Homo sapiens: one gene and its partners. The protein of the gene in region 7 interacts with the protein of the main gene of each other region in a biochemical or structural test. Each region holds a gene or a part of one and is shown on either strand. Other genes may lie near its edges. The genes, in order: NOS1AP, DENND5A, PTH1R, FRMPD1, PRKACA, PLCB1 and CARD11.

Evidence for each region.
Region 1: the proteins of CARD11 (region 7) and NOS1AP interact in a test that uses a peptide from one of them, tested with the Homo sapiens proteins (one large-scale study listed by IntAct).
Region 2: the proteins of CARD11 (region 7) and DENND5A interact in a test that uses a peptide from one of them, tested with the Homo sapiens proteins (one large-scale study listed by IntAct).
Region 3: the proteins of CARD11 (region 7) and PTH1R interact in a test that uses a peptide from one of them, tested with the Homo sapiens proteins (one large-scale study listed by IntAct).
Region 4: the proteins of CARD11 (region 7) and FRMPD1 interact in a test that uses a peptide from one of them, tested with the Homo sapiens proteins (one large-scale study listed by IntAct).
Region 5: the proteins of CARD11 (region 7) and PRKACA interact in a test that uses a peptide from one of them, tested with the Homo sapiens proteins (one large-scale study listed by IntAct).
Region 6: the proteins of CARD11 (region 7) and PLCB1 interact in a test that uses a peptide from one of them, tested with the Homo sapiens proteins (one large-scale study listed by IntAct).

The regions. Positions count from the first base shown.
Region 1 is NC_000001.11:162,359,648-162,364,078, reverse strand, and holds part of NOS1AP (carboxyl-terminal PDZ ligand of neuronal nitric oxide synthase protein), read right to left. Parts: intron 1,097-4,431; exon of another isoform or gene 1-1,096. UniProt on the Homo sapiens protein: Adapter protein involved in neuronal nitric-oxide (NO) synthesis regulation via its association with nNOS/NOS1. The complex formed with NOS1 and synapsins is necessary for specific NO and synapsin functions at a presynaptic level.
Region 2 is NC_000011.10:9,254,626-9,259,056, forward strand, and holds part of DENND5A (DENN domain-containing protein 5A), read right to left. Parts: intron 1-4,431.
Region 3 is NC_000003.12:46,880,475-46,884,905, forward strand, and holds part of PTH1R (parathyroid hormone/parathyroid hormone-related peptide receptor precursor), read left to right. Parts: intron 1-587; coding exon of another isoform or gene 588-644; intron 645-1,520; exon of another isoform or gene 1,521-1,708; intron 1,709-1,774; exon of another isoform or gene 1,775-1,990; intron 1,991-3,037; 5' UTR 3,038-3,085; coding exon 3,086-3,160; intron 3,161-4,431.
Region 4 is NC_000009.12:37,740,739-37,745,169, reverse strand, and holds part of FRMPD1 (FERM and PDZ domain-containing protein 1), read right to left. Parts: coding exon 4,286-4,431; exon of another isoform or gene 3,818-4,285; intron 782-3,817; coding exon 1-781. UniProt on the Homo sapiens protein: Stabilizes membrane-bound GPSM1, and thereby promotes its interaction with GNAI1.
Region 5 is NC_000019.10:14,093,275-14,097,705, reverse strand, and holds part of PRKACA (cAMP-dependent protein kinase catalytic subunit alpha), read left to right. Parts: intron 1-31; coding exon 32-127; intron 128-222; coding exon 223-345; intron 346-3,913; coding exon 3,914-4,078; intron 4,079-4,431.
Region 6 is NC_000020.11:8,730,028-8,734,458, reverse strand, and holds part of PLCB1 (1-phosphatidylinositol 4,5-bisphosphate phosphodiesterase beta-1), read right to left. Parts: intron 1,222-4,431; coding exon 1,067-1,221; intron 1-1,066.
Region 7 is NC_000007.14:3,033,580-3,038,010, forward strand, and holds part of CARD11 (caspase recruitment domain-containing protein 11), read right to left. Parts: intron 1-4,431. UniProt on the Homo sapiens protein: Adapter protein that plays a key role in adaptive immune response by transducing the activation of NF-kappa-B downstream of T-cell receptor (TCR) and B-cell receptor (BCR) engagement.

The DNA of each region.
Region 1 (4,431 bases), on a different chromosome or scaffold from region 7:
AGTTGGCCACCCTTGGCCAAGTGACTTGCTGGCCCAGGGTGTGCCCCTCCCAGCAACCAGCACTCAGAGAATTACACTTGTGGATACCGTGGCTGCCTCCCTCTTGCCCAGATTGGAGGCCCTGACCTTGCCGTTGACCCTATTTCTGATTGAGTGGAGCCACAGGGGCATAATGCCTAAGGAATTTAAACTAAATCTGTCCTCCATAAAGCTGCTAAGGACAGAACTGATATTTTGGTCAAGAAGTCAGACTCATTTTTTTGTCTCATATTAATTGAGAGAAGATCTGGGGAGGGGTGAGAACAGGTGTGATACAGTGAAATACATGTTTGGTCTTCATCCCTGTTTCCTGACATATAGCTCCCCAAACCCTTGAGATCTCCAGAGTGGTAAGAGTGTTTTTTGTATGCTTATTAGATGATTAGTGGTTGGGGAACCCCTGGAAGCTTCGGGATGGGGGCTGCTCACAGGACAGACCAAGGTATGATTAGAGGATAGGATTTTTCAGTCCCACGCCCCAACCTCCAGGAGATGAGGGGCTAAAAGTTAAACTAATCACCAGTGGCCAATGATGTAATCAATCATGCCTACATAATAAAGCCTCCATTAAAAACTCAAAAGGACTGGGTGTGGGGAGCTGCCGGGCAGCTGAACATTTAGAGGTTCCTGGAGGGTGGTGCACGTTGGGAGGGCATGGGAGCTCTGCCACCCTTCCCACAGACCCTGCCCTATGCATCTCTTCCATCTGGTGTTCATTGGTATCCCTTATAATATCCTTTAAAATAAACCAGTAAATGTAGGTGTTTTCCTGAGTTCTGTCAGTTGCTCTAGCAAATCAGTTGAGTCCAAGGAGAGGGTAGTGGGAACACCAATTTATAGCCACTTGGTCAGAGGTGTAGGTGACAAACTATTACTTGTGATTGGTGTCTGAAATGGGGGAAAGTCTTGTGGGATTGAGCCCTCAAACTGTGGGATCTGATGCTGTTTCCAGGTAGATAGTATCAGAATCAAACTGAGTTAGAGGACACTGTGTGCCCTCTGCAGAACTGCTTGCTTGCTTGGTGTGTGGGAAAAAGCCCCATACATTTGGTCATAGAAGTATGTTGTGACAGTATAGCAGGAAGAAACTGAGTTTGTTTCTTCCTATATCCACTCAACAGGGAAAGAAATGTCAATAATATTGTAATCTGGATGTCAGATGGTGGGTGGCTATTAAGGTTTTCTCCTCTTTGGAAAGGGAGGCATGGAGAAATTTCAGCTGGGGGTCCCCCAAATCTATTTGGTTCTAAGGAACAGGACAACTGCTATGGGAAGCCCACAGATAAGCCTCAGAGAAGGGTAAGCTTAATCTTGCACTTATGAGTACCGTTACTTATCCCAACAAAGAGTGGCATCGAAAGGAACCTACTGAGCAAATAAAATTACTAAATTATTCATCTTCCATTTTCTTTGGAACCAAACCAACCAGAGAGAAATGTGGAACAAAGTCTTTCAGCAGATATAAACAAAGAAAGTAGAGAATCCTGCATACCTCTAACTGGCACTTATTGAGGGCTCTCTGCACACATACTGCAGAGTCAGTTTCTTTTCTTTTCTTTTCTTTCTTTCTTTTTTCTTCTTTTTTTTTTTTTTTTGAGACTCACTCTGTCACCCAGGCTGGAGTGCAGTGGAATGATCTCAGCTCACTGCAACCTCTCCCTCCTGGGTTCAAGCGATTCTCCTGCCTCATCCTCCCAAACAGCTGGAATTACTGGCGCCCGCCACCACACCTAGCTAATTTTTGTATTTTTAGTAGAGACGGGGTTTCCCCATGTTGGCCGGGCTGGTCTCAAACTCCTGACCTCAAGTGATCCACCTGCCTCGGCCTCCCAAAGTGCTGGGACTACAGGTGTGAGCCACCATGCCCAGCCCAGAGTCAGTTTCCTGCTTTCCAGTCTGAACATCCCAACAGGACAGGCCATTTGAATGCACCAGACCAGGAGCTGGAGTGCTTGTCTGTTGGGTACTCCCTAGGCAGTTGTAGACAACTCACTTCTCTCTGGACCTCAGTTTCTCCATCTGTCAACCGAGAGGACTGGCTTGAGGCTGAGACAGTTGATAATTCTACATCCAGGTTGACATTGTGGTCAGTACTGGAGGCAATTTGTTAATGGCTCATTGAAGAAAACTCTCAGTTCCCCATTGTGAAGTCAGAATTAGAATTGAGGGTGAAGGAAAAGTCCCCTCTTACAGAAGCCAGGAAAAAAATTGAAAGCTTTTTTTGCAGGTACCCAAGTTCAATGGTGGAGTACCAGCAATACCTAGAAGAAGACCTTTGACTCAAATGCTTCCCATCGCAGATCCATTGGCACCAAGTGCCATGAGAAAATGCTCCTTGTACCAGATTAAATAAGAGTTTTACCTCTGTAAACCCAGTTACACTATTTCAGGTATTTTCAAGTCCTGTGAATATGTGAGCACCCACTGCTGCTACTGCCTGAGCCAGCACTAATGAGCCCTCTGCTTCTGCAGCTGTCAAAAGTGGTACTGGGCATAAGGCTCAAACCTCAAGCTGTGGCAGGCTGTGCTGCAGGAGAACCCAAACCAGGCCATACTGAGACAAAATAGCCTGGACTTCTTTTAACTTTGAGGTGCAGCATTTTATAACTATGTAGGCTCGAACTTGAAGCACTGAAACGAGGCAGCGTTACGTGAAACCTTGGTTTGGGCAGTCTGCTACAGCCCTCTGTGCTTTGTTTCCCCATTCATACAACAGGGGCAGAGAGCACCACCTCCTCCCCACCAGATGGGATTTTTTTTTTGTATTTAGCATGCTTTTCTTTCAAAGAATTAAGCCCCTTTTGTAAAAGTAGACCATATTTCTTTCTGGAAAGGTACAAATTAGTGTCTCCTTTGCAGAACTGTGTTGTCTTTGGCAATGAATGTTGTACTTACATACTAAGTCAGTGATGTGGCACAGAGTGATGTGACACTACGGCCACGTCCCGAGTGCCAGGGCTCAGATGTCCAGCTCTGCACTCTGGCCTCATCATGACACACAAAAGTTCAGCCCTGCACCCTCCAGCTCTACACTGCTTTCCCAAACTCTGAAACCCACCCTCAACCCACCCAGCCACACCAGACCATTGGCGCCCTCACTCTCCAGCTTACTTGCCTGGACTCCAGCTCCTCCATCAGAAGTGAGGGCAGGGCCAGGCTGAAGTTAGGGAGTAGCAGGCACATGGAAATGGCAGTGGAGAGAACCAGAGCAATTTGCCCCACCACACACTGGACACAGAAGCAGAGGCAGGCGCCGCTGTCTCAGCATGCACATGGCAGGGACTTGGGCAGTGCATGCCAGCGTGCTGGGGACTGGGAGAAGCCACAGGGACATATGCTAAATAGAGGGCCTGGGGTGGGGATGCGGAGTTTTGTTAGCACTGTTCCTCTAACTACAGCATACATGATTGCGAAGCATAAATAACCAATTCCTTGTTCCTGAACAAACAGAAGTGGCAGCAGGTAGAGGAGAAATCTTTAAATAGCAATACTGAACTGTACTAACACTTTCCTCAGGAAAAAGGCTGGGAATTGGCAAACTGTGAATAGACCTGGCCTACTTAACACTTGCCAATCAGCCACAGTGCCCAGATCAGTTCTGAGACTATGTCGGCCCAGCCCATGGCCATGCAGGTGCCAGCTACATCCCAGCTTCGCTTCGAGGCTTAGCTATACTCTCATTCACACCCTTGAACTTCTGGTCCACCTAAAAGCAGGAAGCTAGTGCAGCCAGGCAAGCCTCATGCTGGGTCGGAAGAGCGGTCAGAGGGACTTGGGTATTCACTACTTACCCACTGAGGTCTAACCCGGAAATACTTAAGAGTTGGTTGAATACCACCTTTGCCCATATACCTTTAAGGTCAGGGCGGGCCCCTTTGAGACCAGCTCAGAACCAATTTAGGGTGAGGCTGGGAGAGGTCTTGCGGTCTTAGACCAAATCAGGACACTGTGAAGGAAACCTAAGCCTGGTCCCCATGGCAACAGCAGAACTAGACTAGTCTGTGGGAAGAAATGGGGGTGGTGGGGGGGGGACGACATAAATAGTGCAACAAGTGACATCAAGGGTACACTTGTCTGCAAGAAACTGTCTTTATCCTTAGATTTTTATCCAGGAACAACATAGGAGGATTTGGATGCTCTCCGAGAGAAGGAAACTATTCCCACCTGAAAGGCTGAGGTCATAGTTTTACTCACTGGAATTCTGGGGACTGCTGGTAGTTTAATAAAGACAGACAGAAGCCTTGCAGTTTGGTGGCAATAGAGTCTGACAGAACAAGTAAGAGCTGACCTCGTGCTGGAAACTGAAATCAGCCCCCCCCCGCGTAGAGAAACCAAGCTTGCTATACTTGGTCTATTTCAAATGTGTGAAAGATGCCAAGAAGACCCACCTAT
Region 2 (4,431 bases), on a different chromosome or scaffold from region 7:
CTGCCCAGAATCAACCAGCCCAGTAGAGGAAGATGAAAATTAAGTGTAGTCCACATCGACTCCCAGTTTGAAACTGGCTCATAAAACTTTTTATAGCTACTTCATCTCTGGGGAGGGATATCCTTTTCTCTTTTAAATAAGAAGTCTTATTTAAAAGTCTCAGTCGGCAAGGTGTGGTGGTTCACACCTGTAATCCCAGCCCTTTAAGAGGCCAAGGAGGGTGGATCATGAGGTCAAGAGTTCGAGACCAGCCTGGGCAACATGGTGAAACCCCATCTCTACTAAAAATACAAAAATTAGCTGGGCGTGATGGCAGATGCATGTAATCCCAGCTACTCGGGAGGCTGAGGCATGAGAATCGCTTGAACCCAGGAGGCAGAGGTTGCAGTGAGCCAAGATCGTGCTACTGCACTCCAGCCTGGGCCACAAAACAAGACTCTGTCTCAAAAAATAATAAATAAAATAAAATAAAATAATAAAAATAAAAATCTTTGTCTTCTAGGATATGCAAATTAAAACCATGAGATACCACTTACAGCCACTAAGATGGCTATAAACCAATAGATAAGTATTGGTAAGGATATGAATAAAGTGGAATTCTCATACACTGCTATTGGAAATGTACACTAGTGCAGCTGTTTTGGAAAACAGACTGGCAGGCAGTCTCTCAAAAGGTTAAACACGGCCGGGCGCGGTGGCTCACGCCTGTAATCCCAGCACTTTGGGAGGCCAAGTCGGGAGTATCATTTTTCAGGTTGTTTAAGACCTGCCTGGGCAAGATGGTGAGACCTCGTCTCTACAAAAAAATTAAAAATTAGTCGGGCAGCCAGGTGCGGTGGCTCTTACCTGTAATCTCAGCACTTTGGGAGGTCGAGGCAGGTGAATGACCTGAGGTCAGGAGTTCGAGACCAGCCTGGCCAACATGGTAAAACCCCGTTTCTACTAAAAATACAAAAATTGACTGGCGCAGTGGCTCTCGCCTGTAATCCCAGCACTTTGGAAGGCAGAGGCAGGTGGATCATGAAGTCAGGAGTTCGAGACCAGCCTGTCTAATATGGTGAAACTCTGTCTCTAGTACAAAATACAAAAATTAGCTGGGCATAGTGGTGCACACCTGTAGTCCCAGCTACTTGGGAGGCCAAGGCAGGATAATTGCTTGAACCCGGGAGGCAGAGGTTGCAGTGAGCCAAGATTGTGCCACTGCACTCCAGCCTGGGCGACAGAGTGAGACTCCGTCTAAAAAAAAAAAAAAAATCCAGGCTTGGTAACGGGTACCTGTAATCCCAGCTACTCAAGAGGCTGAGGAAGGAGAATGGCCTGAACCCGGGAGGCAGTGGTTGCAGTAAGCCAAGATCGCGCCATTGCACCCCAGCGTGAGCAACACGGCGAAACTCCATCTCAAAAAAAAAAAAAAAGGTTAAACACAGTTACTATATGACCCAGTAATTTCATTCCTAAGTATTCAGCAAAGAGAAATGAAAACATAGGCCTACACACAAAAAAAGAAGTGTACACAAATGTTCATAGCATTATTCAAAACAATCAAAAACTGAAGGCCGGGCACGGTGGCTTGTGCCTGTAATCCCAGCACTTTAGGAGGCCAAGGTGGGTGGATCATGAAGTCAGGAGTTCAAGACCAGCCTGGCCAACGTGGTGAAACCCCGTCTCTACTAAAAATACAAAAATTAGCTAGGCGTGGTGGTACATGCCTGTAATCCCAGCTACTCAGGAGGCTGAGGCAGGAGAATCACTTGAACCTGGGAGGCGGAGGTTGCAGTGAGCCGAGATTGCGCCATTGCACTCCAGCCTGAGCAACAAGAATGAAACTCTGTCTCAGAAAAAAAAAAGAAGAAAACAATCCAATGTCCTTCCACTAATGGATAAACAAATAAAATGTTGTATATTCATACCATGGCATATTTTTCTGGCATAAACAGGAATGACAAACTGATACATGCTACAACATGAGTGAACCTTGAAAACATTATGCTAAGTGAAAGAAGCCAGTAACAAGAGACCACACATATTACTCCATTTATATGAAATGTCAAAAACAGGCAAATCTATAGAGATAGAAAGTAGATGAGTGGTTGCCTAGGGTTCAGGGTTAGAGGGTTGGGAGAAAATGATGAGTAACTGCTAATGGGTACAGGTTTTCAGGGGAGAGTGATTAATACATTTCAAAATGGATTGTAGTGTGATTGTAAAACTAATTGTAAAAATAAATTAAAAATCACTGAAATAAGTGAACTGTATGGTATACGAATTATATCTCAATAAAATTGTTTATATATGGACACACACATAAATGATAAAGCAAATGGGGCAAAATGTTAACAATCGGTGAATCTGGTTAAGAGATATACTGGAGTTCTTTGTTCTATTCATGTCAATGCTTCTTTTTCTTTTTTCTGAGACCAAGTCACTCAGGCTGGAGTGCAGTGGCGCCATCTCGGCTCACTGCAACCTCTGCCTCCCATTTCAAGCGATTCTCCTGTGTCAGCCTCCTGAGTAGCTGGGATTATAGGCACCCACCACCACGCCCGGCTAATTTTTGTATTTTTAGTAGAGACGGGGTTTCATCGTGTTGGCCAGGCTGGTCTCAAGTGATCCACCTGCCTCAGCCTCCCAAAGTGCTGGGATTATAGGCGTGAGCAACCATGTCTAGCCCTCAATGCTTCTTTAAATATGAAATTATAAAAAAAGATAAAGCAATAAAGCTACGGGCCTGGGAGGTCGAGGCTGCAGTGAGTCATGATTGTGCCACTGCACTCCAGCCTGGGCAACAGAGACAGACTCTGTCTCTTAAAAAAAAAAAAAAAAAAGATATCCTTAATGATAATCACACACAGTATTCTTTTTTTTTTTTTTTTTGAGAAGGAGTCTCACACTGTTGCCCAGGCTGGAGTGCACTGGCTCGATCTCGGCTCACTGCAAGCTCCGCCTCCCAGGTTCACGCCATTCTCCTGCCTCAGCCTCCTGAGTAGCTGGGACTACAGGTGCCCGCCATCGCACCCGGCTAATTTTTTTGAATTTTTAGTAGAGACAGGGTTTCACCGTGTTAGCCAGGATAGTCTCGATCTCCTGACCTTGTGATCCGCCCACCCCGGCCTCCCAAAGTGCTGGGATTACAGGCGTGAGCCACCGCGCCCAGCCAACACACACAGTATTCTTTTTTTTTTTTTGAGACAAGGTCTCACTTTGTTGCCCAGGCCAGAGTGCAGTGACGCCATCTTGGCTCACTGCAGCCTCCGCCTCCCAGATTCAAGCGATTCTCTCGCCTCAGCCTCCCGAGTAGCTGGGATTATAGGTGTGTGCCACCAGGCCCGGCTAATTTTTGTATCTTTAGTAGAGACAGGGTTTCACCATGTTGGCCAGGCTGGTCTCAAACTCCTGACCTCAAGTGATCCACCCACCTCAACCTCCCAAAGTGCTGGGATTACAAGCATGAGCCACCGTACCCGGTCTACACACAGTACACACAGTATTCTTTCTTTTTCCTTTTTAAATTATACTTTAAGTTCTGGGGTACATGTGCAGAACATACAGTTTTGTTACATAGGTATACACATGGCATGGCATGGTGGTTTGCTGCACCTGTCAACCAGTCACCTACATTAGGTATTTCTCCTAATGTTATCCCTCCCCTAGTCCCCCACCCCCCCAACAGGCCCCAGTGTGTGATGTTCCCCTCCCTACATCCATGTGTTCTCATTGTTCAACTCCCACTTATGAGTGAGAACATGTGGTGTTCCGTTTTCTGTTCTTGTGATAGTTTGCTGAGAATGACGGTTTCCAGCTTCATCCATGTCCCTGCAAAGGACATGAACTCATCCTTTTTTATGGCTGCATAGTATTCCATGATGTGTATGTGCCATCTTCTTTATCCAGTCTCTTACTGATGGACATTTGAGTTGGTTCCAAGTCTTGCTATTGCACACACAGTATTCTTTCTTACCATGAAACAGAAACCTGGACTAGAAAAAAACTACCATAACGTCTGTTCCTGCCCTGCCAGACAAATTTTTTGCTTGTTCCCCCCGCATCCACCACTCATCAAAGGTCTGCAAAGCATGCAAAATATCACTCAAGTAGCAGAAAAGAATGAAATGTGGCAAGGGAGACAAATATTCTCCCACTTTCTCAGGGCCTCAGTTTCCTCATCTGTAAAATCAGAAGGTTATATAATTGCAAAGGGTGCTTTCATGTTAACATTCGATAATTTTGAAGTTCGAATTTCACTGCTCAATACAGTCAAGGAGGAGTATGATTTGACTAGTCCTCTAGCTTTCCTAGACAGTCACCTTTTTCTCTTTCTTAATTATTTTTATTTTTTATAAAAACAGGGTATTAGGCTGGGCGCAGTGGCTCACACCTGTAATCCCAGGACTTTGGGAGGCCGAGGCGGGCAGATCAACTGAGGTCAGGAGT
Region 3 (4,431 bases), on a different chromosome or scaffold from region 7:
CATACCTGTAATCCCAGCACTTTGGGAGGCTGAGGCAGGTGGATCACTTGAGGTCAGGGGTTCGTGACCAGCCTGGTCAACATGGTGAAACCCCGTCTCTACCAAGAAATGCAAAAATTAGCCAGGTTGGTGGTACACACCTGTAGTCCCAGCTACTTGGGAGAATCACTTGAGCCTGGGAAGCGGAGGTTGCAGTGAGCAGAGATCATGCCACTGGACTCCAGCCTGGGTGACAAAGTGAGACTTTGTCTTGAAGAAGAAGAAGAAGGAGAAGGAGAAGAAAGAAGAAGAAAGTAGCAGCAGAAGAAATACATGGGGAATGCACCTGGGAGTGCAGTCTGGAAGCTGGATGGGCTTGAGCCAGCAGAAGGGTGGCTGCAGCTGGATCCTAGGCCTTAGGACTTGGGCTTGACAGATTTGCACTGAGGGTTGGAGGGCAGGTTTGCAGGCTCCGAGGAGCTCAATATCCACAGGCTGAGTCTTGAGAGCCCCTGGAGCCCATGGGCCAGGATGCCCACCCTCGTGGAAACTAAACAGTAAAGTTAACATTGCCCTTGAATCAGCTGGCCAACCTCTCCATTTTGCAGATGAGGAAACTGAGGTCCAGACAGCCGAAGAGTGGTAGTGTCCAGGACACACAACTGGTAAGCGGGCAAGCACAGGCTGTTGCTTAGCCCAGACTCATTTCCCAGGGCCTCATGCATTCGCTTCCTCCGCGATCCTTAAAGCCCTGCGCTCCAGGCATCCCCAGCCCCTCCCTCTGCCTCAGTTTCCCCACTTGGTACCGGGAGGTGGTAGGTTTGGGGTCGAAGGGCCCCTCCTCTTAGAGCTCCAGCGTGCCCTCCCCAGCCAAACACAGAAATCCCGCCCCGTTCAGCCCCAACCCCCGCGGACTCCTCCTTGCCTTCCCCTAAGTCGAGGGTCCCAGGCGGCCCGGTCCGAGCCGGCCGATAGCTTTTGGGAGTGGGGGTGGGAACGGGGGAGGGAGGTGAAGCCTGAGAGTGGGTGTCTGGATTGAGCCCCAGGTCTGGCAGCCTCGAGCCTCCGGGGTTGGGGCTGGGCAAGCTGGAGAGGCCCGGCCAGCAGCTGAATGGGTCGAGACTCGGAGACCCGGACCCGAAGAGACGCTGGGCAGGGAGGGAGCGGGATGTGTGGCTGCAGACCTGGGCGGGGGTCGGGGCTGGCCTAGGGCCGAGAGGAACGACAGGCCTGGGATGGGACTGAGGGCAGGGGACGAGGCGAGGGTGGGGCTGGACGTGGGGGAGGGCGGCAGCAGCCAAGCCGGGCTCGGGGCTGGCAGCCGAGCGGCCTCCCCAGGGACCCCGACCCGGCCCGAACGGGAGCCCAGTGGACTGACAGCGTCGCGGCCGGGGGCGCGCGGGGGTACCGGGCAGCCTCCTCAGGGGATTCGCCCATGATGAAAGAGGGCTCGCTTCTCGGCTCAGGGTCTCTATTCGCCAGCGGGGGCCGGATGATCAAGGGAAAAAAAATTTAAAAGCCCGTGCTTTCCAGAAGAGAATGAAGCGGCGGCGGCGTCCCGGGTTCCCTGCTCGGGTCTCGATGTTACAGCTGCCCCCGCCCCGTCTCCCCAGCACTCACATCCCGCCGCCGTAAGACTCCGGGCCTCGGCCTCTAGCGCAATGTCCCGGGGCGGGGGGCGGAAGGCTCCTCTCGGCCTCTCCACACTCCCGCGTCGGCGGCTGCGGAGGGGGTGGGGGCGGGAGAGGCCCGGGAGGGCGCGGGGGAGGGAAGAGGCGCCCGGCCGGGGAGAAGGGGAGCGGCAGACGCCGAGGCGAGGGATGCGCGCGGCGGGCGGTGGCTCCGAGCGGCGGCCGGGCGGGGGGCGCTGGAGGCCAGGCCGGCCAGCGGGGGGTATCCCGAGAGCTCCATGAAGTCCCCCCGGGGCCGCGGACGGGGCGCTGGCTTGGGGAGGCTGTCGGGGGGGCCCCGACATCCATGGCAAGGCGGGGGCCGCGGCGGCGCGCTCGGAGTAAGTCGGGGCTGGGGACCCGCGCCGAGGGGAAGTGGCCGGAGTCGGGGAGGAGCGACTCCGGGCCTGGCCGGAGCAGCCAGGCTGCTCTGTCTCGGTGTCAGTCGGCGGCGCCTCCTCGGAACCCGGGGGAGTCGCCAGCCCCGCGCCGCTCGGCTCGGTGGCTTTTTTGGAAACTTGCAAATGTTTTCGTAGAGAGAAAAGGGGGAGGGAGGGAGCGAGGGAGTGACCGAAACGGAGCTTGGGGCCGCTGGAAGAACTGAGGCCAAGGCCGGGGGAGCTAGAGACGGACTGACAGACAGGCAGACCGACAGAGCGTCGGGGCCGCTGCGCGCCCGAGCCGCACAGGCGCAAGCGGGGCTCTGGCCAAGGATGGGGAAGGGGTGCGGGAGGCGGCTGCCGAGGGTCTGGGATCTCAGGAGGCCGAACGGCCGGGGGCTGGCGGCCGGAACACCTAAGGGCTCAGTGTGGCTGCAAAGTTGAGATCGCACCCCCTAACTGCACGCCCCGCGCGGCTCAGAACGCGCCCCCTGCCCGGCCCTGACTCCCTACGCCGAAAGTCGCGGAGCTAAAAATAACAGTCCTGCGCGCCCCCCGCAGACCGCGACCCCGACCCCTCCCCCGCCCCCTCCCCCCACTGGGCGTGGGGCGAAGCCACAGCTCCCATTTCCCCAAAAGAAAAAAAAAGAAAGAAAGAAAGAAAGAAAGAAAGAAAAGGCGGCGCGGGAGGGGGGCGGGGGGCGGGCCGGGGGCGGGGGGCCCGGCCATATGGATGTGATTTCTTCGCTCCGAGGCAGACGGGCCGCTCCGCAGCGCTCGGCGCCCGCCCGCCGCCCGCCCGGCCTCCGGCTCTCCCTCCCTCCCTCCTGTCCCTCCCTCCCTCCCTCCTTTGCGCTGCTCGCTCGCTCGCTCGCTCGCTCGCCCTCAGCGCATGGGCCCCGCGCCGGGCCCCGGGGCCTCGGGCCGCCGGGACGCCGGGGTCCCATAGGCCGGGGCGTGGGCGGGGCGGCCAGCCTGACGCAGCTCTGCACCCCCTACCACCACCAGGGCCGGCGGCGGCGGCTGCCCCGAGGGACGCGGCCCTAGGCGGTGGCGATGGGGACCGCCCGGATCGCACCCGGCCTGGCGCTCCTGCTCTGCTGCCCCGTGCTCAGCTCCGCGTACGCGCTGGTGAGTCCCCCGCCGCCAACACTCCGGGACAGGCTGCGGGCTTACCCTAGGGTCCGCGGGATAGGTCTAAGGCACGCAGTCTTGAGTTCCCCCAGTAGTTCGAACTTTGGGTGAGAGTCCCCTCTGATCCAGGATCCTGGGTGCCTGCTGTCTCTGGGATGTCTGGACTGTGGGTTCCAGCTGCCTGAAGCCTCCCTATTTCTGAAGCCTCGTTTGGGGTCCCAAATCTGGCAATTTGTGGTTGAGTTTTCACCATCCTCTGCTTCTGTGAGCACCATGGCTGTTTCTCCCTGGAAGATGACAGTGTGACCCAACAGAAGGCTGGGCTTTGGCCCTGCTGCGTACTCCCACAGACTTTGCTTTGGGGACCTCTGTTTTCTGCAAGTTTTGTTGCAGTCCCGGACACAGGGAATGTAGGTCTGAGGTCAGAATCATCCAGGCAGGGGGTAGGATTTAGGGGCCCCCTCCAGCCCTCACACACACACATGCACACGTCTGGCTTCACCCAGGGTAGAAGCTGTTTCCCCAAGGAGGTGGGTGTGGTGTGGCATGGAGAAGGGATGGAGTTCCCTGAAGGAGACTGACCTCACAGTGCACCCCTGTAGGAGAAGCACAGCATATCCTGTGGGGAAGTGAGGAGACCCCTGGAAAGACTGTCACTCCCTGAGAGTGACCTAAAAGCAGAATGGTAGGGAAGGCTAGAGGGAGAGGAGAGACAGAGACAAAGCCGGGTGGGGAGGAGAGATCCCCCCAGCTGGAGGGGTGGACAGACTAAGAACAGCAAAAAAAATAGGGAGACAGGCAAAGGCAGAAAGCTGGAGACACAGAGTGGGCAGCACCTCCTCCTCCTGGGCCAGGGTCTGGGGCCCACTTGCTGGGAAGGGGGCTGTCCCAGCCCCTCAGTCCTATTCCACAGCAACCCCATCCCCTGGGACGAGCCCGTTCCTGGGGAGGCTGTCTGCCTGTGCGCCTAACTTCAAAGCCTCTTCTCCCTGCTCCCCAGTGGGGGTATCTGCCTGCTAGAGAGCAGGGCAGTCAGGCAGCCTCCTCCTCCTGACCAGCAGCAGCTCCCTACACGGGGCAGAGCTCCAGGCAGTTCCAATGAGCCTGGGATTCCTCCACCTTTGCATGATGCCTGTGTAAGCCTGGGCTGTCCTTCTCCGTGCCTCAGTTGCCCCATCTGTAAAAGAGAGGGCCTGGAAGAAACATCTGCCTGAGAATCCCATCATCAGAGGCTCTCCCTTCCTCTGAGGTCCTCAGCACTTCCCACT
Region 4 (4,431 bases), on a different chromosome or scaffold from region 7:
AACTGGAGCTCTAGTGTGTCTCCTTGAGAGACATTATTTAGTCCTGGGTTGCTGGCCAGGCAGGCTCTGTCTGGGTTAGGGTCACCACTGGAGAGGGAGAAGGAGCTGTCTCCATGCTCTATGGTTGGTTCTTTGGGGGCAATCCCATCCAGGTCTTGAGATAGAGGTAAGATTTGGGAAGGCCTTGCCTGAGCAGTATCTGGGCCAGATGAACCTGGGTTAGAACAGTGAGGAGTGCTTGCTGAGGAGCTGGCAGCAGGGACAACACCAGAATTCTCTTTATTGTTGGGGTCAATCCGGAAGCGAATGGCAGAAATAGAAGACACTCGAGAGTCGATGACTGATTTGGTTTCCATGGTCTCGGGCTCCATCTCCATGACCCTGGAGGCTGGGTTTGTGCTCTTGGTCTCCCTCAGAGGAGCCAGCAGCCCCAAGGCCTTGGTCTCCAGAAGGCCAGGCTCACCCTGCATGTCCTGCAGAGAGGACACAGTTGGGGAGGGTGCACCAAGGGCCAGGTAGGGCTCCCTGTCATAGTAGCACACGTCGTCTACACTCTCCAGGGAGGCTGATGGCACCAGGGGAAATGAGACCTGAGAGGTGTAGTCGGTCTGTAGGAAAGACCTTCTTTTCCTCAGGGTCTTGGCATATTTCTTCACCCCTCCCCTCCTGCTTGGCTGTCTTCCATCTGGCCCACAAGGCAGGCTGTTCTCAGGGCTAGAAGTGCTGGCCTTATTCTGCAAGCTTGTGGCACTGGGTTCTGCAGTAGAAACATCTCTGGGCCCTGGGAGTCAGGAAAGAAAAAATACATTAAAAAGCACAAAAAAAAGAGGTTAATAGAGCTTGGGCTCAGGCCTTGGGCTTTCCTGGGTTTAAATTCTGGCTAGGCTGTGTAACCTTGAGCAAGTTCAATCCTGATCTCCTCAACTTCCTCATCTGAAAGATGGGGATAATAATTGTGACAGATTTTTTTTTATTTTTTTGAGACGGAGTCTCTTTCTGTCACCCAGGCTGGAGTGCAGTGGCGTGATCTCGGCTCACTGCAACCTCTGCCTCCCAGGTTCAAGCAATTCTCCTGCCTCATCCCCCCGGAGTAGCTGAGATTACAGGCATCTGCCACCATGCCCAGCTAATTTTTGTATTTTTAGTAGAGATGGGGTTTCACCATATTGGTCAGGGTGGTCTCGAACTCCTGACCTCAAATGATCCGCCTACCTAGGCCTGGGATTACAGGCATGAGCCACCGCGCCTGGCCGACTTTTTTTTTTCTTTTTTTTTGAGACAGGGTCTCACTCTGTCCCCCAGGCTATAGTGCAGTGGTGTGACGGCTCACAGCAGCCTTGAACTCCTGAGTTCAAGCAATCCTCCCACCTCAGCCTCCCAAGGTGCTTGGATTATAGGATTGAGCCACTGCACCCAGCTGTGATAGACATTATTAAATTTTTGGATGCCTAAGATCCATTTAATTATCTTTTGGTCACAGCATCTCAACTTCTGTTTAGGGAATGACATCTCCCCAATGGTTAGAGTCTGCTGGAACTGTTCACGAAGATGCTCTGTCCACGCCAGCCAATCAGCTACAAATTCTCCAGAATTCCAAACCCAAAGACATTAAAAAAAAAAAAAAAAAAAAAAAAAAAAAAAAAAAAAAAGCAGAGCCATTCTTTCCAACCACAATAGCTTGATAATACAGGTAGGGAATCCTGTGACTAGACTCTTAGCCTGGTTGCTGTCTATTTCTGAACCCAGGTCTTCAGGCTTGCCAGCAATTCTATAAACAATCTTACTTCCTAACACTTTTTCTTTGTGCTGATGTTAACCCAAGTCTTTTAGTGCCAATGGTGCCATTCAGTGCTGCCGTGCAGGTTAAAGGAATTAGTGCATTTTTATAAAGCACCCAGCACAAGGCCTCTGCCTCATTAGGTATTCACTAAAAGGAAGCTGCTCGTTATTGCCATTTCATGTCTGAATGTAAAGGGGCCACAACTCTGTCACAGGCATCGAGTTTTGTGCATCCCAGGATGGATCTTTCTGGGAGGAGAGGCACTATTGTAAAGAACCCTTGGGAATCAGCCAGAAGGAATTAGGATCAGAGCCTAGCACTTGAGAATCAGAGAGCTTGGGTAGTCAGACCAGTCATTTCTAACCTGGCTGTATGCTATTAGAAACCTTATCAAGTCCTAGGCTGCTCCCCACAATCTCTGAGGAGTCAGAATCTCTGAGGCTAGGGCCTAGGGATCTATAAGGTTTAGGTTTTTTTGTTTTTTGTTTTTTGAGACAGAATCTTGCTCTGTTGGCCAGGCTAGAGTTCAGTGGTGCAATCTCGGCTCACTGCAGCCTCTGCCTCCCAGGTTCCAGTGATTCTCCTACCTCAGCCTCCTGGGTAGCTGGGATTACAGGTGCACGCCACCATGCCTGGCTAATTTTTGTACTTTTAGTAAAGATGGGGTTTTGCCATGTTGGCCAGGCTAGTCTCAAACTCCCAACCTCAGGTGATCTGCCTGCTTCTGCCTCCCAAAGTGCTGGGATTACAAGTGTGAACCACTGCGCCCGGCCAAATCTATAGTTTTTAAACAAGGTCCCTCAGGTGATTCTGATGCCCAGTCACATTTGACTGCCCTAGGCTACTGACAGCCACCGACCAAGGAGTTTCTAAGTCCCAAAGACAAAGAGGCTCCAATAGTCAGTCAGGGGCCAAATCAGAACCCAGGCTGAGGAATCCTAGTTCTGGCTCTTTTCTCAGCACTACACTGGCTCCCTATAAAAAACAAAAACAAAAACAAAACAGTGTCTGGTATGAACCCCATATGTTCCTGACTAGACTCCCATAAAAGGGCCCTGACTGATGGTTTCTGCCACACTTCCATCCTGCCCCCCGGCACAATGGCTGGCCCTGCAGGGCAAGGCTGGGGCATGGAAAGTGGTTGTCTGGGTACTTTGGGGAGCAGTAAGGAGTCTGGCCATGGTTTCTCCTTTCCTTAGAGGTACAGTCAATTGAACTCAGTGTAGATGGTGGAGACTTCATTCATTCATTTAACAACAATTGCTAGACGCTGTGTGCTGGGGACACAGTGAGAAACACACAGTTCTAACGCTCAAAGGAGTTCTCGGTCTAGTGATGGAGAGAAACATCAACACAGAATCATACAAGTAAATATGTAATTTACAGGCTGTGCGAGGTGCCAGACAGGGAGAGCCCCAGGTAATGCAAGAACATGTGACAGAGATGGGGAGACTTGCCCTGGCCTGGGAAGCCTGGGAAATGTTCTCTGAGGAAGTGAATTCCAACCGGAATCTGATAGACGGATGGGCACCATCAGCCACGATCTGGGGAGGAGTGTTTCGGTCAGAAAGAGCAGCATGTGCAAAGGCTGGAGGAGGGGGAAAAAACAGGCACTTGTAGAAAGTGGCAAGGAGGTCTGTATGGCAGGAATGCAGGAGGAGGGAGAGAGACAGGCAGAGGCCATGTCACAGAGGGCCTCAAAGGGCCTGATGGGGCTCCCAGAGGAGCTGGCCTTTCTCTCCAGAACAGTGGGAGAGCACAGGAGGTCTGGGAATAGAGGATCAGAGAGCAGCAGGAAAGTGCCGAGACAGGAACAAGGGCTGCAGCTCTCCCAGCTCCTGGCAGGTCACCTTCAACATCCATGTGCTCTTTTCCAATATGTTTCCTTCAGAATGCAGTGTGTGTGTGTGTGTGTGTGTGTGTGTGTGTGTGTGTGTGTCCTGCCAGGATCTCAGTTCTGCTTGGAAAGACCCTCCACACTCTCGGTGGAGGAATGTATGAGGAACCTGATAGAAACACAGCCACCAGATCCCCTACCTTCTGATGTCAGGGTCCCTTGGACCCCAGAAGGCCTTGCAGGGCCACAGACGGCCTGTCTGTCTGGTTCTTCTTGCTTCAAGGCCTCCTTTAATGCAGCCTCAGGATCAGTGATGACATAGCCACTTCGCTCTGCCGGGCACTCCTGTCAAGCCCTTTCCTTTTTTGTAAATTCTGTCCCTCCCACAGGGCCCAGCCCATTTGCCCCCTCTTCTGGGAAGCCTTCCCTGATTCCCACTGTTGGATGAATCCCTCCCATCTGCTTGCCACAGTTGTCTGAACCTCCCTTGCAGGCCTGCCACGATGCCTAAAATTTGGTCCATGGAATCTGTATCTACCTCCTCAGAAGTGTACAGGGACCCTGTTTCACTCATGTGCCTTCCTCTCAAGCTTGGCCCCAGGCCTTGATCCCCGGGAGGCACTCAGGAGCTGCCTGCCGTGTCTGCAGACCTGCAAGGGACGGCTCACCTGACGGGGGGCCTGGGGGAGTGAGCTTATCAGCCGCGTCATAGTATTCCTCATCTGAGCTGCCATCCTCAAAGGCCAGTGGTGGGTGCAGGGCCAGGGGTTCCAGCATGGAACTGGGCTGGGCCTCAGTCCAGCCCTGCTGACCC
Region 5 (4,431 bases), on a different chromosome or scaffold from region 7:
CCCTGCCAACTGCCTGTTCTTGTGCCCACAGGTGACAGACTTCGGTTTCGCCAAGCGCGTGAAGGGCCGCACTTGGACCTTGTGCGGCACCCCTGAGTACCTGGCCCCTGAGATTATCCTGAGCAAAGTAGGAGCCTCCCCAGCCCTCCCCTTCCCCTGAGGCCGGCTCTGCTCTCCTGCTCTCGCCTCCTCCTCACCCTGTGCCCCCCCATCTTGCTCCAGGGCTACAACAAGGCCGTGGACTGGTGGGCCCTGGGGGTTCTTATCTATGAAATGGCCGCTGGCTACCCGCCCTTCTTCGCAGACCAGCCCATCCAGATCTATGAGAAGATCGTCTCTGGGAAGGTGAGGTCCGGATGTGGGGACACAGCCCTGGAAGAAACAGACCGTTCCCTGCTCACCCATCCTATTCCCTGGGGAGCCCTGCTTGTTGTCAGAATAATCTAGAAGTTCCTTAAGTCAGGCCAGGTGGTGAAGCTGGACGCGCCGGCCACACTGAGGCCAACACCTCAAGCCCCCTTGCTGTCCAGCCCCAACCCCGCGGTTCCAGAATCCCATGGGCTTCCAAAATCCCGAGCCTCACGGGAACATCTTGGCCACAGAACACAAACCGCCCTGCCAGACGACCCTCCTTTTCGCTCCTCATCCCAGTTAGTGTGAGTTTTCGCAAATTCCAAGGCAGAAAAACGAATGTATTTGGTTCCTGTTCCCAGGTGCTGTCCATAGCCTCACCCAGGATTGCCCTCACTTAGCATTTATAGCCCATGCTTCCTCTCCCAAACCCAGACTTGCCTAACTCTGAGGGTTCAGATGAGGGGTGGTGAAGCCATCTCAGCTCACATCTATGACAGGTGCAAAGTGCCCACCATCCACCAGGCCCCAGAATCCCCATCAGTCACACCCTGAGATAGTGGCACCCTCTGTAGGAGAGGTGAGGAAACAGGCTGGGAAAAGGGATGTGTCTTGGCCAAGATCACACTTTGGTGAGTAGGTAATCACCGTAGGCAATCATTGTAGGCACTGATGGCCGGAGAGAGGTTGGGGACCCCACCTCTGCCCTCAGCTCAACCACCTTGCTGGGAAGACCCGACCATCCCCCGACTTGGTCCAGCATCTCCTACACAGGAGCTTTTGGTTGGCCCGGAGTCATGACACTGTGGTGGGAGCACCCTCAGGCTCAGCCTGGGCCCCAGTCCCAGCTCTGCCACCGACTGGCTTTGAAACTTTGGGGCTGGGTACAATGGCTCACACCTGTAATGCCAGCACCTTGGGAAGTGGAGGCTTGAGGCCAGGAGTTCCAGACCAGCCTGGGCAACATAGCCAGACCCCATCTCTAAAAAAAAAAAAAAAAAAACAAACTGGCCGGGCGCGGTGGCTTACACCTGTAATCCCAGCACTGTGGGAAGCCAAGGCGGGCAGATCACCTGAGGTCGGGAGTTCGAGACCAGCCTGACTAACATGGTGAAACTCCGTCTCTACTAAAAACACACACAAAAAAAATTAGCTGGGTATAGTGGTGGGCGCCTGTAATCCCAGCTACTTGGGAGGCTGAGGCAGGAGAATCACTTGAACCCAGGAGGCGGAGGTTGCAGTGAGCCAAGATCACACCATTGTACTCCAGCCTGGGCAACAGGGCAGGACTCTGTCTCAAAAAAAAAAAAAAAAAAAAAAAACTAAAAATTAGCTGGGCGTGATGGTGCACCCCTGTGTTCCCAGCTCATCGGGAGGGTGAGGCAGGAGGATCGCTTGAGCCCAGAAGTGAGCTGTGAGCTGTGATTGCATCACTGCAGTCTAGCCTGGGTCACAGAGCCAGACCCTGTCTTTTAAAAAAATTCAGGCAAGTGGGGTGCCCCAGCTGGACACATAGCATCACTAAAAGAGAAAGATGAAGGCCAGGCGCGGTGGCTCACACCTATAATCCCAGCATTTTGGGAGGCCAAGGCAGGTGGATCACGAGGTCAGGAGTTCAAGACCAGCCTGGCTAACATGGTGAAACCCTGTCTCTACTAAAAATACAAAAATTAGCTGGGCGTGGTGGCGGGTGCCTGTAATCCCAGCTACTCGGGAGGCTGAGGCAGAGAACTGCTTGAACCCGGGAGACAGAGGTTGTAGTGAGCCGAGATTGCGCCACTGCACTTCAGCCTGGGTGACAGAGCAAGACTCTGTCTCAAAAAAAGGGAAAGATGAGGCATCTGCCACCGGACCAAAAGAAACTGCCAAGAAAATGGCCCAGAGTTGGCCGGGTGTGGTGGCTCACGCCTGTAATCCCAGCACTTTGGGAGGCCGAGGCGGGCGGATCACGAGGTCAGGAGTTTAAGACCAGCCTGACCAACATGGTGAAACCCCGTCTCTACTAAAAATACAAAAATTAGCCGGATATGGTGGCACACACCTGTAATCCCAGCTACTCAGGAGTCTGAGGCAGGAGAATCACTTGAAACCGGGAGGCAGAGGTTGCAGTGAGCTGAGATTGTGCCACTGCACTCCAGCCTGGGCAACAGAGCAAGACTCCATCTCAAAAAAAAAAAAGAAAAAAAGAAAAAAAAATGTCCCAGAGTGGGAAAAAAAAGAAAGAAAAAAACACAGAAGATCCCACAGGAGAAGATGCACATGACTCCCTTCTTTGTAGCATTTTCTAGTTCCCCCGCACCGTCAGTGGTATTATCTCCCTCGTGCAGCCCTGGCATATCTGCCCCACATCTGAGAGGCATGCGCAGGCCCAGAGAGGTTAAGGGCCATGGCCAAGGTCACACAGCGTGTAAGAGGCACAGCAGGAACAAGAAGTCGTTTCTTGCAACTATAACTCCAGTGATGACTTGCATACAAGGCGTGGGCTCAGAGGGTTTGGGGAAAACTTTCAAGAAGAGTTGAGCTGGGCTTTAAAGAACGGAAGAGCCTTAGCTATGCAGAAAGAGAGGAGAGAAAAAGTTTGTCATAAGCAAGAATATTTCAGAAGTCTCCAGACCCCAGCAGAGATGCCTTAAGCAGCAGCAGCAGCAGCTGAGAATGCAAGTTCTAGAGTCCAGTAGACCTGAGATGGAATTGCCCCATCACACACCTCAATGTGACCTAGGAAGAGCTGTTTAACCCAAGCCTCAGTTTCCCCTTCTCTGAAATGGAAATCATCATAGCACTTGCCTTAGAGCAATGGTTCTTAAAAGGGACCCCTTTCCAGCAGCACCATTGCTGGGGAATTTGTTAGAAATGCAGATTCTTGGGCCAGGCACGGTGGCTCACACCTGTAATCCCAACACTTTGGGAGGCCAAGGCAGGTGGATCACCTAAGGTCAAGAGTTCAAGACCAGCCTGACCAATATGGTGAAACCCCGTCTCTACTAAAAATACAAAAATTAGCCAGGTGTCTTGGCGTGAGCCTGTAATCCCAGCTACTCAGGAGGCTGAGACAGGAGAATTCCTTGAACCCAGGAGGCGGAGGTTGCAGTGAGCCCAGATCGCACCACTGCACTCCAGCCTGGGCTACAGAGTGAGGCTATTTTTTTTTTTTTTTTTTTTTTTTTTTCAAAAAAAGAAATGCAGATTCTTGCTGGGTGTGGTGGCTCACGCCTATAATCCTAGCACTTTGGGAGGCCAAAGCAGGAGGATCGCTTGAGCCTAGAAGTTCAAGACCAGCCTGGGCAACGTAGTGAGACCCTGTCTCTACAAAAACTTCTTAAAATAACTAACTCTTGAATTTTTAAAGTTTTTAAAGAAATGCAGATTCTCAGGCCACAGTATCAGACTTCCTAAATTGGAAACTGTAGGGTAGGCTCAAGGAGCTGTTTTACAAGATGCTGGCAGGCACTCTGCTTTGGAGGCCCACACCCAGTAGGACCGTTGGATGGAGAAAGAAGCATCATGGGCTTCCCAAGTTCCAGACCAGCTTCCCACCCTGTCCTTGTACCCCTTCCTCCAGGTGCGCTTCCCTTCCCACTTCAGCTCTGACTTGAAGGACCTGCTGCGGAACCTCCTGCAGGTAGATCTCACCAAGCGCTTTGGGAACCTCAAGAATGGGGTCAACGATATCAAGAACCACAAGTGGTTTGCCACAACTGACTGGATTGCCATCTACCAGAGGAAGGTGGGCCTCCCCTCCTTAAGCCTGCTGAGGGTTTGGGAGCAGGCCAAGAGTCAGGGAGGACAGCCAATAGAGAAATAGAGAAGAGAACACAGGTTCAGGAGCAACCTAGAGTAGAGAGCTTAGAGCAGTGGGGTCTAGAAATGGGATTCTGGGGTCATTTGGCCATTCCATGACCTTGTGCAACAGATGCCTCTCTCTGGGAAGTAATTTCCCCTTTGATGAGTTGCTACATTAAGAGTTTCGGGCTGTTAAGAGGAATCCATAACCTAATGGTAAGCACAGGCCTGAGTCAGAGTAAATATCTCTTGAATGTTAGGCCATTCGCATTTATTGTTGTAATAATGATTATGTTG
Region 6 (4,431 bases), on a different chromosome or scaffold from region 7:
GGAAGATTTTCAAAAACCATTTAAAGTAATTTGAAAGCTTTTGTTTAACATTTGATAATTTATTGAGGGAATGTTCTGTCTCTAATTTTCTAAGAACCAAACGGGGAAAAAAAGACCGGAAAATCTCTCCAATATGGGCCACTAATTATCATGTAAATTTCATAGTAGGTTAGTTACACCAAAAAAGAGGTTTGCTTATGATGAGTCTCTCCAACTCATTTTATTGATTTAGAGTCAGATTTTTATCATTAAGAATAAAGTTCAGTCGCTTTATCTTATTCATGTGGCCTATGAAAACTTTTTTTTTTTTTTTTTTTTTTTTTGAGACAGAGTCTCGCTCTCTCGCTCTGTCGCCCAGGCTGGAGTGCAGTGGCGCGATCTGGGCTCTCTGCAAGCTCCACCTCCCAGGTTCACGCCATTCTCCTGTCTCAGCCTCTTGAGTAGCTGGCACTACAGGCGCCCGCCACCACGCCCGGCTAATTGTTTTTTTTTGTATTTTTTAGTAGAGACGGGGTTTCACCGTGTTAGCCAGGATGGTCTCGATCTCCTGACCTCGTGATCCACCTGCCTCGGCCTCCCAAAGTGCTGGGATTACAGGCGTGAGTCACTGCGCCCGACCCTACCAAAACTTTTATTATTATTATTATTATTATTATTATTATTATTATTATTATACTTTAAGTTTTAGGGTACATGCGCACAATGTGCAGGTTAGTTACATATGTATACATGTGCCATGCTGGTGTGCTGCACCCATTAACTCGTCATTTAGCATTAGGTGTATCTCCTAATGCTATCCCTCCCCGCTCCCCCCACCCCACAACAGTCCCCAGAGTGTGATGTTCCCCTTCCCGTGTGCATTCATAGATGGGAATTGAACAATGAGAACACACGGACCCCTTACGAAAACTTTTAATGTGTATTTGATCTTTAGAGAAAAAAAATGTAGGAAGAAAGTAGAATCTTTCCTAGTTACTAAATTTTTAATGACTAAGCCACTTCTTTATGCAATGTAGATAAATTCAACACTATTGTTAGGAACAATTTTGTGATGGGGTATACCTACCTTAACAGACAAAGTGTTTGCCACTATCCCATCTACGATGCCTTCAGTAAATGGATCAAAATGCTTGTCAGGCCTCCTCATGAACTCTGGCTTCAATCTGTAGCCACTCTTCCCGTTGTATTCATACATCCCCATATTTATTTGCATAGCCAGGTCTGAGTATCAAAAACACAAGCCTTATTGTGAGTTTATCTATACTTGGGGTAAGAAAGTAAGATTGTAAAGTAAAGTTGATCCCAGTCCACTTTTGTGACTGTATTCCCTTGGAAGAGAGTCATTGTAGAAATGCAGGAAACACAGATAAGAAAAAAATTACCTCTAATCCCCAAGTCCAGAAATAATCACTGCCAACTGGTGGGTGTGCAGTCTGCTTTTCCACTTCAAATATATTGTTGACATACAGTATATTGATTTCATTTAATATGTATCTGCCTTAATTATAACAGCTGTCTCAAATTCCTTTGATTAAATATATTAGAATAATATATTTGTATAATATATGTTAAATATTAATATAATATAATATATCTAATATATAATATATAATTATATATAAATATAGTATATACAAAATATCTAATATCTAACATATATTAGATATATTATTTATATTATTCTAATATATCTAATATCTAATGTATTAAATATATCATTCTAATATATATTAGATATATTAGAATGATATATTAAATATATCATTCTAATATATAAAGCATATATTAGAATATTATGATACAATATCTAATATCTAATTTCTAATTTCTAATTCTAATATCTAATTTCTAATATGATACACTATCTAATACAATATATTAGAATATAATATCTAATACAATATATTAGAATATAATATCTAATACAATATATTAGAATATAATGTATTTAACCATTCCCCTTTTGGGCACATTTATGTTTTTTCTAATTTTTCACCCTTATAATGTTTTGATAAACATCATTGTGGTGAAATCTTTGAAGCCATGATCAGTGATTTTCTTATGAGAGGAATTCCTGGGACAAATGATGTCCTCATTGGAAAATTTTTCTTTGATGCCTTGCTAAAATGCCCTTCAGAAAGCTTAAACCAGCTTATACTACTAAGCCATGTTTTTGAGAATGGACTTCTCCATGCCTCATTAAAAGAGGATTCTATTATTCCTTTTCCTGCTTTTTAATTTGTACAAAAAATTTCTTTTTTATAATTTGCACTTCTGTGATTACTTACAATTAACATCTAATTCTACATAGACTCTTTTCCAGTGGACAAAGGTTACTGGTCAAAATTTTCCTCAGACTCAGTGCATCAGATGAACGTTCACACATATTGCAACTGATAGAGTGAAAGAATACATATTAAAGTTGTAAAGAATCTGGGAAGTTGTCAACAGTTCCAGATTATCTGTGTCATGACTCATCTCTATGTGCATAATAAAGAGGTGATGGCAGAATTATTCTAAAGTTTCATTTAACAAATCATTTTTAGAGCAGAAAAAAATCAGTGAAATTTTCTCTTATTAAACTATTATTTTATAAACATAACTATGATGTCAAAATTGGACAAAATTTCAAAACAATAATGAATTTATGACACTTGAAAAAATTAGCTTCAAAAGCCTAAAAATTACATTAGCAAGTCATATGTTCTAAAAATAATACACAACAAATAAGTAGAGCCTATTTTGGGAACAAAAGGATAATTATATATTAGGAAATGAGATCTATTAAGATAACTTATCACATTTATGTCTGAAAAATGAACATATGATCATCCCAATGGATGTCCAAGAGACATTTAATAACATTCAATACCAACTTCTAAAACATTAGTCAAATAGGACCCGTGTCCTTTAGTATGTTAAAGAATATCTGACTCAAAGTCACAGCCAATATCTGACTTGATGATATCACAACAGTGAAACTTATATTAGGATCAGGATGAAGAGAAAGATGCCCACTCTTCACTTAGATAGAAGACGTTAAGACCTGGTGTTTGATAGACAAGGAGGTGACTATAGTTAACATTAATAGTTTGTACATTTAAAAATAGCTAGAAGACAGCAATTCGATTGTTTCTAATGTAAAGATAAATATTTCAGGTGATGGATATCCCAATTACTCTGATTTGATTATATAAATGTATTAAATTATCATACGTACTGCAAACGTTTGTACAGCTATTATGTATCAATAAAAATAAATTAATTGATTTTAAAAAGCCATAAATATCTAGCAAATTACTCTTAATCGTGGCTTAGAGCTTGATAGATACTTAATAAAAGGCATAATGTTGAACTTCCTACTGAATAAAAAAGAAAGATGCCCACTCGGAACCCTCATTTAATACCTGAGAACGGTAAGGCCAAAGCAATAAATAAGGCAGGTGGAGAAATGAGATATGATTAAATTACTGTCTTTGTGTGTCTAAAAATTCCAACGGAATGTACTGCAAAAAATAGGCTATTATAAGAGTTTAGAAAGATGATCATTTGTAAAATACAATCATTTATAAAATAAACAAATATACAAATATAAATATCCAGAAACAATCTGTTAAAAATATAATATAAATAAAAAGAAAGATTCAGTCTAAGAAAACTAGACCTCTAATGAAGACAAGTGATTTTGCTGAGGACTTAATACAAAAAATTTTAAAGTAAAGAGAAAAGCATTTTTCCTGTGACAGAAAAACTAAAAATTAAAAAGGTGTCAGTTTTTGTCAGATAAATTTATAAAGTTAATATGATTTTAAAAATAGTTTTTTTTTAGTAGTCAAGGAAAACATAATACAGTTAAATTAAGTTTATTTGAAATAAGAATTCCACTGGCAATGGCAAAAAAGGAATTGAAAATTAATAGTAGTAAAGGAGAATCACCACTTCCAGGTATTAATCCATATTATAAAATACAGTAAAAACAGTGAGTTATTGCATCCAGGAAGGCAGACAAATTTATTAATGGAAAAGATACAAAGTGAAAAAATGGGTCTGAATTAACAACAACAATGAAAAAGGCTGTATCTATTAACGTGTAATTCCAGTTCAGTGGGATGATTGTTTAGGATGAAAAAAAAGGATTGATCTCACTGAGACTATGGACCAAAATTAAATTTTGATGGTTGAAAAGGTTAAATAAAAAAGAAACCATGAGAAAAATGGGAGCACAAGGCTTTCATCCTGGGGTGAGGAGGCTGTAATCATACAAGTAAACCAAGAACTTTTAATTAAACATTAATCAGCCTGACCTGATCCACTGAATTGTCTCTGTTTCACAAAAGACAATATACCCTTTAAATAAAAAGTGCTGTTATAAATCAACAAGAAAATTGACGATAGTCCTGAATATGTAATTCATAAAAGCAGAAATACAAA
Region 7 (4,431 bases):
TCAGTCGCACTTGGATAGGAACGGTCCCCGTAGAGAGGGAATACAGAATGGAAGATGCAGCAGAGAGAGAAGACAGTTGCTCGAGAAGCGTCTTTGATTGGAGAGAGGTGGGCTCTGGTGCCTGTGCAGAGTGGGCCTTGGCAGGTGGCAGGATCATCATCTCAGGCACAGGGCAGGGCGAAGTGCCAGGCGCAGAGGCAGGAGGCCCTAGGCAGGCGGAAGGGGGAAGTAGGGCCACCAGTGCAGTGGGAGGAGGGCCTCCGAGGCCCATTAGTCTGACTGCCACAAGACATAAGGTTGATCTTTAAAATATATTTTAAAATTACAGCTGGGCACGGTGGCTCATGCCTGTCATCCTAGCACTTTGGGAGGCTGAGGCGGGCGGATCCCCTGAGGTCAGGGGTTCGAGACCAGCCTGGCCAACATGGTGAAACCCTATCTCTACTAAAAATACAAAATTAGCTGGGCATGGTGGCACACACCTGTTATTCCAGCTACTCAGCAGGCTGAGGCAGGAGAATTGCCTGAACCCGCGAGGTGGAGGTTGCAGCGAGTTGAGATCACACTACTGCACTCCAGCCTGGGCAACAAGAGTGAGACTCTGTGTCAAAGAAAATAGAACTGTATATATATAATTACTAAATTATATATATAAATTATATAAATAGATATTATACAAATATAATTATACATATTATATACAATTATATATAAATATATAATTATACATATAATTACATATATAATTTTTTAAAAATAATATGTATATATGTACAAATTACTTAAGAAAGATACAGGGCTGGGCACGGTGGCTCACATCTGTAATCCCAGAACTTTGGGAGGCTGAGGCTGGAGGATAGTTTGAGTCTAGGAGTTCGAGACCAGCCTGGGCAACATAGCAAGACCCTCATCTCTACAAAAAATAAAAAAATTAGCCGGTCATGGTGTCACATGCCTGTAGTCGCAGCTACTTGGGAGGCTGAGGTGACAGGATTGCTTGAACCCAGGAGGCTGAGGCTGCAGTGAGCTATGATGGCACCATTGCACTCCAGCCTGGGCAACAGAGCAAGACAAAATTACAGCAAACTTCCACATAAAATGAGTGAGGAGACACGGTGACCCGTCCCCGGCGCACAGACGGCCTTCTGCTTGTACCGGAGCTGGGTCCTTTCCCCACTAGGTCATGCTCTTCGCCAGTCTAAGACCTCCCCGGGCTCAGAACACTCGGAACAGGGCCCGGTAAAAGGCCGTCCTTTAAGAAGGAGGAGAAACATTTTTCAAAGATCGAGAACTCTCCTACGAAGAGCCAAGAGCCTCTGCGTGCCTCAGGGACTCAAACGGGGATCACGGTGCCTGTTCACTGGCAAACAGGGACCCCCATGTCAGCTCGCAGAGGCTCTCCGCAGGGTATCAAGCTGCTTCTTGAAACGCGTCTGAGAATTGAAGTCAGGAGTCTTGGAAGGCGGTGTGAGGTATCGTTATTATTCTGCTGAACGTTTCCCCCGGAACCAACGATACCTGAATCCCTTTAAAAATAGGCCATTTCTTCTTAGAAGATTTCCACGAATCACATAATCCTTACGCAGAGGCAGGCAACGAAGCACTAATGTCAATAACGTTACAGTTTTACTTCACAGCAGCATTTATCCACTGACATAGCAATTTACTAAACCGCAGAAAACGCCGGCACAGGGCCTCTGCTTGCCCTTGGATTTTTTTTTTTTTTTTTTTTTTTTTTTGAGATGGAGTCTCACTCTGTCACCCAGGCTGGAGTGCAGCGGCGCGATCTCGGCTCACTGCAGCCTCCGCCTCCCGGGTTCACGCCACTCTCCTGCCTCAGCCTCCCGAGTAGCTGGGACTACAGGTGCCCACCACCACGCCTGGCTAATTTTTTTGTATTTTTAGTAGAGAGAGGGTTTCACCGTGTTAGCCAGGATGGTCTCGATCTCCTGACCTCTTGATCCGCCTGCCTCGGCCTCCCAAAGTGGTGGGATTACAGGCGTGAGCCACCGCGCCCAGCCCTCCTTGGATTTTTTAAATTTCAGAGACAAGGTCTCCTTCTGTCGCCCAGGCTGGAGTGCAGTGGTGCAATCACAGCTCACTGCAGCCTCTACCTCCTGAGCTCAAGTGATCCTCCCACCTCAGCCTCCTGAGGAGCTAGGCCCACAGGCATGACCACTACACCAGCTAACTTTTACATTTTTTGTAGAGATGGGGTCTTACTATGTTGCCCAGGCTGGTCTCAAACAACTAGGCTCAAGCCATCCTCCTGCCTCAGCCTCCCAAAGTGCTGGGATGATAGACATGAGCCACTGTGCCCAGGCTGCTTCCAGATTTTTTTTTTTAAAGGGCCATCACCACCAAGACACGTATAAGAATGTTCACAGTGGTTTCATCATAACAGCCCCAAACTGCAAGCAACAGAAACATTTATCAACGGTCAGGTGGATAAGTAAATTGTGGTAATTTTTTTTTTTTTTTTTTTGAGACAGGTCTCACTCTGTCACCCAGGCTGGAGTGCAGTGGTGCGATCTTGGCTCACTGCAACCTCTGCTTTCTTGGGCTCAAGCAATTCTCCAGCCTCAGCCTCCCGAGTAGCTGGGATTATAGGCGCAAGCCACCAATGCTTGGCTAATTTTTGAATTTTTGTAGAGACGGTTACATCCTGTTGCCCAGGCTGGTCTTGAACTCCTGAGCTCAAAGCAATCTGCCTGCCTTGGCCTCCCAAAGTGCTGGGATTACAGGCATGAGACACAGCGCCTGCCCCTATTGCGGTAAATTTATGCCATGAAATACTGTGTAGCAATGAAAAAGAAACATTGAATGTGACTCCGTCCACGTCAAGTTCAAGGACAGGGATGGTGATAGAGGTTGGAAGGGTCCTCCCTTAGGGGACAGGGGAGGGGTAACGACTGGGAGGGGATATGGCACTTCCCCAGAACCTAGAAAGGACCCAAATCTTGATCTGGGTGATTGGCTCCAGAAGGGCATGTGAAGGCCCGTCAAGCTGTTTGTACGCTTAAGACTGTACTGTGTGTGTGTTATACCTTAATTTTTAAAAATTATTATTATTATTATTACTGATGGGCAATCAGTTTTACCTTTCTTTTTTATTTTATTTTTAGAGATGGGGTCTTGTTCTACTGCCCAGGCTGGAGTACAGTAGTGCAATCCTAGCTCACTGCAGCCTCAAACTCCTGGGCTCAAGTGATCCTCCCATCTCAGCCTCTGGAGGAGCTGGGACTACTACAGGTGTGTGTCACCATGCCTGGCTAATTTTTTAAAGTTTTTTTGTAGAGGTGGGATCTCACTATGTTGCCCAGGCTGGTCTCGAACTCCTAGGCTGAAGTGATCCTTCCACCTGGGCTTCCCAAAGTGTTGGGATCACAGGTGAGAGGTGCCACGCCTGGCCTATCAAACTTTTTGATGTTTGCCAGTCTGACAGGTGGAAAACGCTATGTCCCTGTTGTATTACTTCACATGGATTTAATTACAAACGAAGCATGCTGACTGACCTGCTCATATTCCGTGTGTTTGTACCCTTTCACCATTTTTTCCATTGGTTGAATTCTCTAATTTTGGGGTCTGGACACTCCCACTGAGGGTCCAGTCCTGTGCCATCCACTGTGCCGAAGGTGGCCATACTCACTCCCAACTGCAGCCGCCTCCACCCCGCAAGGACAGAGTTGCTAGCTTCGACAGAGACCCTCTGGCTCACAAGGCCTAAAATATTTACTATTTGGAGCTTTCGAGAAAAAGTGTGCCAGTTCCCATGTCTCATTGGTTTACAAGAGTTCTTAGTAAATTAAGGAAATAGCTCTTTGCCACATATACTCTGTTTTGCATTTAGCTCATCTCTCTCTGTTCTCCCTCCTGGCCTCTGAATAAGCAAGTCAGAAGTAAAACTTAAAAGCAGAAGCCTGCAGAACCCCTTGACACATTTGGTGCGTTTGGAAACACTTTGGTCTATGCTAATCTAGGGGTGGTATCATTATTATTATTAATTTGTGATAGAGTCTTGCTCTGTTGGCCAGGCTGGAGTACAGTGGCACAATCGTGGCTCACTGCAACCTCTACTTCCCGGGTTCAAGTGATTCTCCCGCCTCAGCTTCCCGAGTAGCTGGGATTACAGGTGCTCACCCCCATGCCTGGCTAATTTTTGTACTTTTAGTAGAGACGGGGTTTTGCCATATCTCAAACTCCTGACCTCAGATGATCTGCCCGCCTCGGCCTCCCAAAGTGCTGGGATTACAGGTGTGACCCACTGTGCCCAGCTAGGGGTGGTAATTTTATACCCATTTTACACGTGCAGCAATTGAGGCTCAAAATCATCATGTGACTTTGTTGGGGTCACCGAGATTGCAGGCAGTGGAGCCGGAATGGGCACCTTGTCTGTCAGGCTCTAAGTCTGTAGATCTCTCCAGAAAGCAG